Linked DNA regions of Homo sapiens. The protein of the gene in region 1 interacts with the protein of each later gene in a biochemical or structural test. Each region holds a gene or a part of one and is shown on either strand. Other genes may lie near its edges.

The links.
Region 2: the proteins of IFI35 (region 1) and BATF form a complex in vitro, tested with the Homo sapiens proteins (one study listed by BioGRID).

What each region holds. Positions count from the first base shown.
Region 1 is NC_000017.11:43,009,682-43,013,432, forward strand, and holds part of IFI35 (interferon-induced 35 kDa protein), read left to right. Parts: intron 1-1,077; exon of another isoform or gene 1,078-1,256; intron 1,257-2,497; coding exon 2,498-2,596; intron 2,597-3,365; coding exon 3,366-3,513; intron 3,514-3,585; coding exon 3,586-3,692; coding exon of another isoform or gene 3,693-3,698; intron 3,699-3,751. UniProt on the Homo sapiens protein: Acts as a signaling pathway regulator involved in innate immune system response.
Region 2 is NC_000014.9:75,539,408-75,543,158, forward strand, and holds part of BATF (basic leucine zipper transcriptional factor ATF-like), read left to right. Parts: intron 1-3,751. UniProt on the Homo sapiens protein: AP-1 family transcription factor that controls the differentiation of lineage-specific cells in the immune system: specifically mediates the differentiation of T-helper 17 cells (Th17), follicular T-helper cells (TfH), CD8(+) dendritic cells and class-switch recombination (CSR) in B-cells.

The sequences.
Region 1 (3,751 bases):
GTCAGAGGTCGCAGTGAGCCGAGATCCTGCCACTGCATTCCAGCCTGGCGACAGAGCGAGACTCTGTCTCAAAATAAATAAATAAATAAAAAATAAAAAAAATTAGCCAGGAGTGGTGGCAGGTGCCTGTAATCCCAGCTACTTGGGAGGCTGAGGCAGGAGAATCTGTTGAATCCGGGAGGTGGAGTTTGCAGCGAGCCGATATTGCGCCACTGCACTCCAGCCTAGGCAACAGAGGGAGACTCCGTCTCAGAAAAGAAAAAAAAATAGAGGGCTGGGCGCGGTGTCTCACACCTGTAATCCCAGCACTTTGGGAGGCTAAGACGGGCAGATCATGAAGTCAGGAGATCGAGACCATCCTGGCTAACACGGTGAAACCCCGTCTCTACTAAAAATACAAAAAAATTAGCCAGGCGTGGTGGCGGGCACCTGTAGTCCCAGCTAATCGGGAGGCTGAGGCAGGAGAATGAAGTGAACTGGGAGGCGAAGCTTGCAGTGAGCAGAGATCGCGCCACTGCACTCCAGCCTGGGCGACAGGGTGAGACTCCGTCCCAAAAAGAAGAAAAAAAAAAAATAGCTGGCATGATGGCACACGCCTGTACTCAGGAGGCTGAGATGAGAGGATTGATTGATTCCAGGAGGTCGAGGCTGCAGTGAGCCATAATGGAGCAATTGCACTCCAGCCTGGGTGGCATTGAGACTTTGTCTCAAAAAACAAAACAAAACAAAAACATGGGTAGATTTGCTGTGGGGGGAAACTTTGTTATGGCTAGAAGCAGTTTACTTTAGAAAGGACATGCTCTTCCCAGTGCGTCAGAGTCCCCACCACTCTCTGTTATCCTACATGGCTCTATTAACTCATTAATGTCATCCAACTGGCCCTTAAAGGCACTGTGTTAGCACTCTCTGAGTTACAGAAATATGAATAACTAATGATCTTTTTCACTATTCATAAACCAGCATAATTTGGTCAAGCTCTAGTATTCTTCTGCTAAAAATAGAACAAACTCACACTGAATTTCTTTGGTGTCCTCTGTAATGTGCTCCTTTACCGTCATTCATTCACTTCATTTCTTCATTCAACACAGTTTTACCGGACACATATTTTGTGCCGGAGATCTTGCTGGACACAAGGAATACAGAGATGGTCAGAACAGAGTCCTATCTTTCCAAGAGATCTCATGCTTCTCTGAGCTGAACTTCTTTATCAGGATTCCTAACCACAGGGTGAACTCTGCTCTATTCCACAAACAAAGGTGCATTTATTGGTATCCCTGGTGTCACTTCCCTGCCTGTGATGTCAGTTCTCTCTCTGGACCCATTCCAGATCACACCCAGCCTAAAAGGTTACTTGGTGTACAGTGGAAAGTGTGACAGTCCAGGGACAAGCTAGAATTGATGGGTAAACTACCTCCCCACTCTGGGCTTCATTTCTTCACTGTAAAGCACAGGTTAGTGGGTGGGCTCTGGAGTCAGACAGCCTAGGGCCAAATGACTTTGGGCAAGTCATTTAACCTCTCTGAGCTTTAATTTCCTCATCTATAAAATAAGGATTGGCCAGGCATTGTGGCTTACACCTGTAATCCTAGCACTTTAGGAGGCCGAGGCGGGCAGATCATCTGAGGTCAGGAGTTTGAGACCAACCTGGCCAACATGGTGAAAACCTGTTTCTACTAAAAATACAAAAATGAGCCAGGTGTGGTGGTGGGTGCCTGTAATCCCAGCTACTTGGGAGGCTGAGGCAGGAGAATTACTTGATCCTGGGAGGTGGAGGCTGCAGTGAGCCAAGATCGCGCCACTGCACCCCAGCCTGGGAGACAGAGCAAGACTCTGTCTCAAAAATAAATAAATAAATAAAAATTAAAAAAATAAATCAATAAAATAAGGATCACAGGATATCTATCTTAGATACCCTGTTGTTCTAAGAATTGAATGAAATAATTCATCAGACGGGCTTAGCACAGTGCCTGGCATATAGTAAGTACTTAGTAAACGTTAGTTAAGAATATGACTGTATGACATTTTGCAACTAGTCTCCCCTCCTCTTGGAGGTGTCCCTAATTGGGTTAACCCCTTTGGGATTGTCCCTCTTCCAAATTCCGGCTGCCCTTCACAGTCAGTCATGTGATCATGTACTCTTGAGCACTGTTTGGCAGGCCTGAGGGTCGTACCCTTATCTTCCACTGCCTGTGTCAGTGCCGAGCACTTTCTAGCAGGAGCTTAATCAGTGTTTGTTGAACTCTAGATCTGTGGTCACGAACAAGTCATGGACGCTGCAAAGGCTCCTGCCCTTTCAAGAGCAGCTGAGATGAGGCCAGCCAAGCCCTGGGTGGAGGGGGCCAAGACCAGCCCAGGGCAGCACAAAGGGGTTGGGTTGTTCTTGAGCTTAGCATCAACTCTGCTTTTGGAGCGTCCAGAATAGGCCCCACTTCCCCTGGGCTTGTTGATTCTCTGGAAGGGCGGGTAGAAGTCTTGTTGTTTCCTTCTGCCCCAACAGGCCCTCCACGCCCTTCAGGAGGAGCAGGCCAGACTCAAGATGAGGCTGTGGGACCTGCAGCAGCTGAGAAAGGAGCTCGGGGACTCCCCCAAAGACAAGGTAAGGTGGGAGATCTGGTGTTGTTTGGTAAAAACGAGCTGGCGAGGCCGGGTGCGGTGGCTCACACCTGTAAACCCAGCACTTTGGTAGGCCAAGGGGGCCTGATCACCTCAGGTCAGGAGTTTGAGACCAGCCTGGCCAACACAGTGAAATCCCATCTCTACTAAAAATACAAAAATTAGGCCGGGCGCAGTGGCTCACGCCTGTAATCCCAGCACTTTGGGAGGCCGAGGCTGGTGGATCACCTGAGGTCAGTTTGAGACCAGCCTGGCCAACAGGGTGAAACCCCGTCTCTACTAAAAATACAAAAATTAGCTGGGTTTGGTGGCACATGCCTGTAATCCCAGCTACTTGGGAGGCTGAGTCCGAATTGCTTGAACCTGGGAAGTGGAGGTTGCAGTGAGCCAAGATCATGCCACTACACTCCAGCTGGGTGACAGAGCAAGACTCCCTTTAAAACAAAGAAACACAAAAAAGAGCTGGGGAGTTCTCGGTTTTATTCCTGGCTCTGCTACTTCCTTGCTGTGTGACCTCCATTATGTTACTTGAACATCTGTAAAGTAGAGCTACCCACCTCCCAGGACAAATTAAGATGTTGTATGTAAATTGCCCTGTATGGACCAGACCTGCATTCATCCACTCATTTATCCAGCTTTTCTTTCAGTAAATGTATTTATCTCCGGCACTCAGCATCAATGGAATGGAATCGGAGATGCCTTCCTCCTAGGTGGGAGTGAGGAACACTCCTACTCCCCTCCCCTACTTCCAGGTCCCATTTTCAGTGCCCAAGATCCCCCTGGTATTCCGAGGACACACCCAGCAGGACCCGGAAGTGCCTAAGTCTTTAGTTTCCAATTTGCGGATCCACTGCCCTCTGCTTGCGGGCTCTGCTCTGATCACCTTTGATGACCCCAAAGGTAAGCTCATGGGGAGCCTCAGGAGGGAGGTGGGGAGGGTTCCCAGTACTGACCCTGTTTCCCACCACCCAGTGGCTGAGCAGGTGCTGCAACAAAAGGAGCACACGATCAACATGGAGGAGTGCCGGCTGCGGGTGCAGGTCCAGCCCTTGGAGCTGCCCATGGTCACCACCATCCAGGTGATGGTATGACAGAATCCTGGGGCATGCAAAGCATGCCATGCACCTGGGCATGGGGA
Region 2 (3,751 bases), on another chromosome or scaffold:
GGTAAGGTAAGCTGGAATTTTTTTTTTTTTTTTTTTTTTTTTTTAGCAATTCTTTTCCCAGTCTTTCTAGAGGAAGGCAAGGCAGAAGGGGTTTGGGATGGACGCTGAATGAACCAAACTATAGTTTTTTTCACATTTGAGGGCAATGAAATCATAGTCTTGAAAACCAAGGACCAGGCGATAGCCTTTTCACCCTGTGACTAGACAGGTCCCTGAGGGCACGGCTGATGTGGCCAATCTTCTGTAAATGCAAAGGTGCTTATGGCCCTAGAGCTTCAGCTCTAAGACATGAAAGTGAAGGTTCCTCCAGAATCACACACGTGCATTATTCAGCGCAAAGATCTGTGGTTTGGTGATTCTTCTTCTCCTTTCATAAGGTGAGAGGCAGCAGTTGGGGTGAATTTCCCCAGGAATGGTGGGAGATGTGGGCCTAGATCCTCCCGCTGCTTGGGAAGAGTCGTACTTTTCAGTTGGAAGCCTGCTCCAGGAATGGCGGGCTCCACCCTCTGCATGTGACGTACAGGGGCTGGTAACTGATGGAGCCTGAACATATATCTGGGTGTGAGGGATAAGCTTCGAACGCCACTTAAGTGTAGGTGGGAGCCAAAAGGTCACCCTGCCAATACATGATTACATGTCCTGTTGAGGAGAAAATACACAGGGACTATTTTCACCCTTCTGGAAATTGTGATTAGAAAATGCAAGGAGAAGGCCAAGACACTAAACTGGAGCTGGTAGGGAGGAAGCCTCAGCCCTGCTCAGGGTGCCTGGACAGTCCCCACCAGGGCCCAGCTAGGAAATGCCAGCCTTGTCCTTGGTCTTCGTCCCTAATGGCTCCCGGCGGGTGAGGGAACTGCCTGGGGATTCCCCATCGTTGAAGCGCTCTGTGAGTGACCCCCTCCTAAGCCCCTCCAGTAGGGGATTTCCCAGAATGTTCCCACGCCCCCAGGAAGCCTCTTCCTTAGCCACCCCCAAGCTGCTTGCGGTTCATGGTAGAGGTAGGTGGCATCAAATGACCCCACAGGTGAGGGATTTGCCTGAGGTGGGAAAAGAGGGAAGATAAAATTGGAAAGCCACCGGGGCTGAGGAATTATCTCATAGGAGAGAACTGTCAAACAGTATAACGTTTAAACAGACTTTAAAGGCAAGAAAGGATGGAGGGCACAGACTCTGAAGCCAGAGTGCCTCAATTCAAGTACCGGTGCTGCAACTTCCAAGCTGCGTGATCTTGAGCCAGTGACTTAACTTCTCTGTTCCTCTGTTTTTCCTCTTCTGTAAAACGGAGATAATATTTTCTACCACACAAGTTTGTTGAAAATATCAAATGTAATGATAACCATAAAATACTTAAAAGAGTGATTGGCACACGGAAGTATTCAATAAATGTTAGTTATTGGCCAGGCATGGATGATTCACGCCTGAAATCCCAGAACTTTGGGAGGCTGAGGCAGGCGGATCACTTGCGGTCAGAAGTTCAAAACCAGCCTGGCCAACATGGTGAAACCCCGTCTCTACTAGAAATACAAAAAGTTAGCCAAGTGTATTGGCGGGCACCTGTAACCCCAGCTACCCAGAAGGCTGAGGTGGGGAGAATTGCTTGAACCAGGGAGGCAGAGGTTGCGGTGAGCTGAGATTGCACCACTGCACTCCCAGTCTGGGCAACAGAGAGAGACTCTGTCTCAAAAATTAAATAAACAAATAAATGATAGTTAAGTTAACCTAGGCTATTTTTTTAAAAAAATTTTGGTTTCTATCCACCTTTTTCGTATAAATTGAGCCAGGTTACACCTTAGACCTATTAGATCAGAATCAGGCATCAGGATTGCTAAAGCTCCCCAGGGGACCCCAGTGTGTGGATGAGGTTGAGAATCATTGTTTTGGTCCAGTCTTTCCATTTTAAAGTGAGGCAACTGGAGCTGAATAGGGAAATCGAGTCACTGAGGATCACCCAGCCAGGACCAGGGCCCAAGTTCCTATTCCCATTTACCGCTGATGGAGCTCACCGTGGTCATGAGTTCAGGACCTGGCTCTGTGTCTGGAGGAAGGTCTGGCCTCGAGTCAGCCCTTGTCCAGAATATCTGGCCAGGTGACCCCCTCTCCATGCAGCCCAGGAGGCAGATGGTCAGCTCTATGATTGGAAGAATGTGAGTGACTCAGGGATCTTGTGTTGTGTTGTGTTGTGTGTGGGTCACCAAAACCGAGACCCAGCTTTCTCCTGGGAGACAACAGGGTAGCCAAGGACTTATTTTTTTGTTTTGTTTTGTTTTGTTTTTTGAGACAGAGTCTTGCTGGGTTGCCCAGGCTGAACTACAATGGTAAAATCTTGGCTCACTGCAACTTCTGCCTCCCAGGTTCAAGTGATTCTCCTGCCTCAGCCTCCGGAGTTGCTGGGACTACAGGCATGCGCCACCACGCCCGGCTAATTTTTGTATTTTTTGTAGAGACAGGGCTTCACCATGCTGGCCAGGCTGGTCTTGAATTCCTGACCTCAAGTGATCTGCCCACCTCAGCCTCCCAAAGTGCTGGGATTACAGGCGTGAGCCACAGCACCTGGCCAACTTTCTAGTGTTCTCGGGAGACCTTTGCCCACTCAAGTCTCCAGTCTCTCGGGGGAAGCAGTCAGTGTGAGAGAAGGAACACAGGGCCCCGAGCCAAGCCCTGCTCTGCGCCTCCCTCGCGGGCAATGAGTCTTTGCATCAAACACTCAAAGTTTCTGAACTTCTGAGAAAACAAGTGCCTTGAGGTGAATCCTATAGCACAGCTGTCACCAGCCTGTGGTCATTTTGGAGGGTATGTGGCATAGGTTTGTCCCAGGGTCTCAGTTGTCCTCATCTGTAGAGTGGGGATAATAACAGCTGACCTTCCCTATCCCACACAGAGCGTTATTGTGAGGAGTCTGATGGACCTGGATGAATTCTGAATAGGAGAAAGATGGGTACATGGATGCCCAAATGCAGGCTCACCCCCACCCCTCTCAGTAGCAGAAGACATGCATATGGGAGAAGCTGCATTTCCTCCCAGCCTCACTGTGCTCTAGGTGTCCAGCCCTCATTGTTAGGGGATGTCACTGTTGTACCTCTGGATAAACAGCTGCTCTCATGCCACCTTTGCCAGTTGTCCCTTCAGCTGGGCGAGCCCTTTCCAGGGCATGACTGCCCCAAGGAGGGCCAGAGGGGACTGGGCAATAGCAGGGACATGGAGGGACGAGGCCCCAGATCAGCCACTTCCTCCTGCAAGGGAAGTCAAACCCTTTCTCTCATAAGTGTCAGGCTGGCTGCACGGTCCCTGGGCTGGCAGGGCAGGTTTCTTGGGGGCCCTAGCAGGAAGCACTCTTGCTTCCCAAGGTAAAGACAAGTTTCTTATCACTGGCGGTGGTTTTCTGGTTAGAGGCAGCAGGCAGCGGTTACAAACTTTGCCTAGAGCTCTGGGATCTGCAAGCCAGGGAGGGGGAGGCAGACGACAGAGCTAGAGTGAGCTCAGCAGAGCTTGCTTAGGGAGGAAGGACCCGCTGTCACTTCCCGAAAGCTGGGCCAGCCTCTAGGCGGGGAGAAGGTCAGAGTGGCCCTCCCTTCTGCCTCGGGGTTTGCCCAGGCTCTTCAGAGCACAGAATTTACAGTAAATGTTGTCACCAGTGGAAACTCTCAGAGGGGGCGAAGAAAAGGGCTAGAGGAAGGAGCCAGGACTCCCGGCCCCCAGTTCCCGTCTTACCAACACCCCCTAGTCTCATCGTGTTGCTTGATCTTACCTTTCG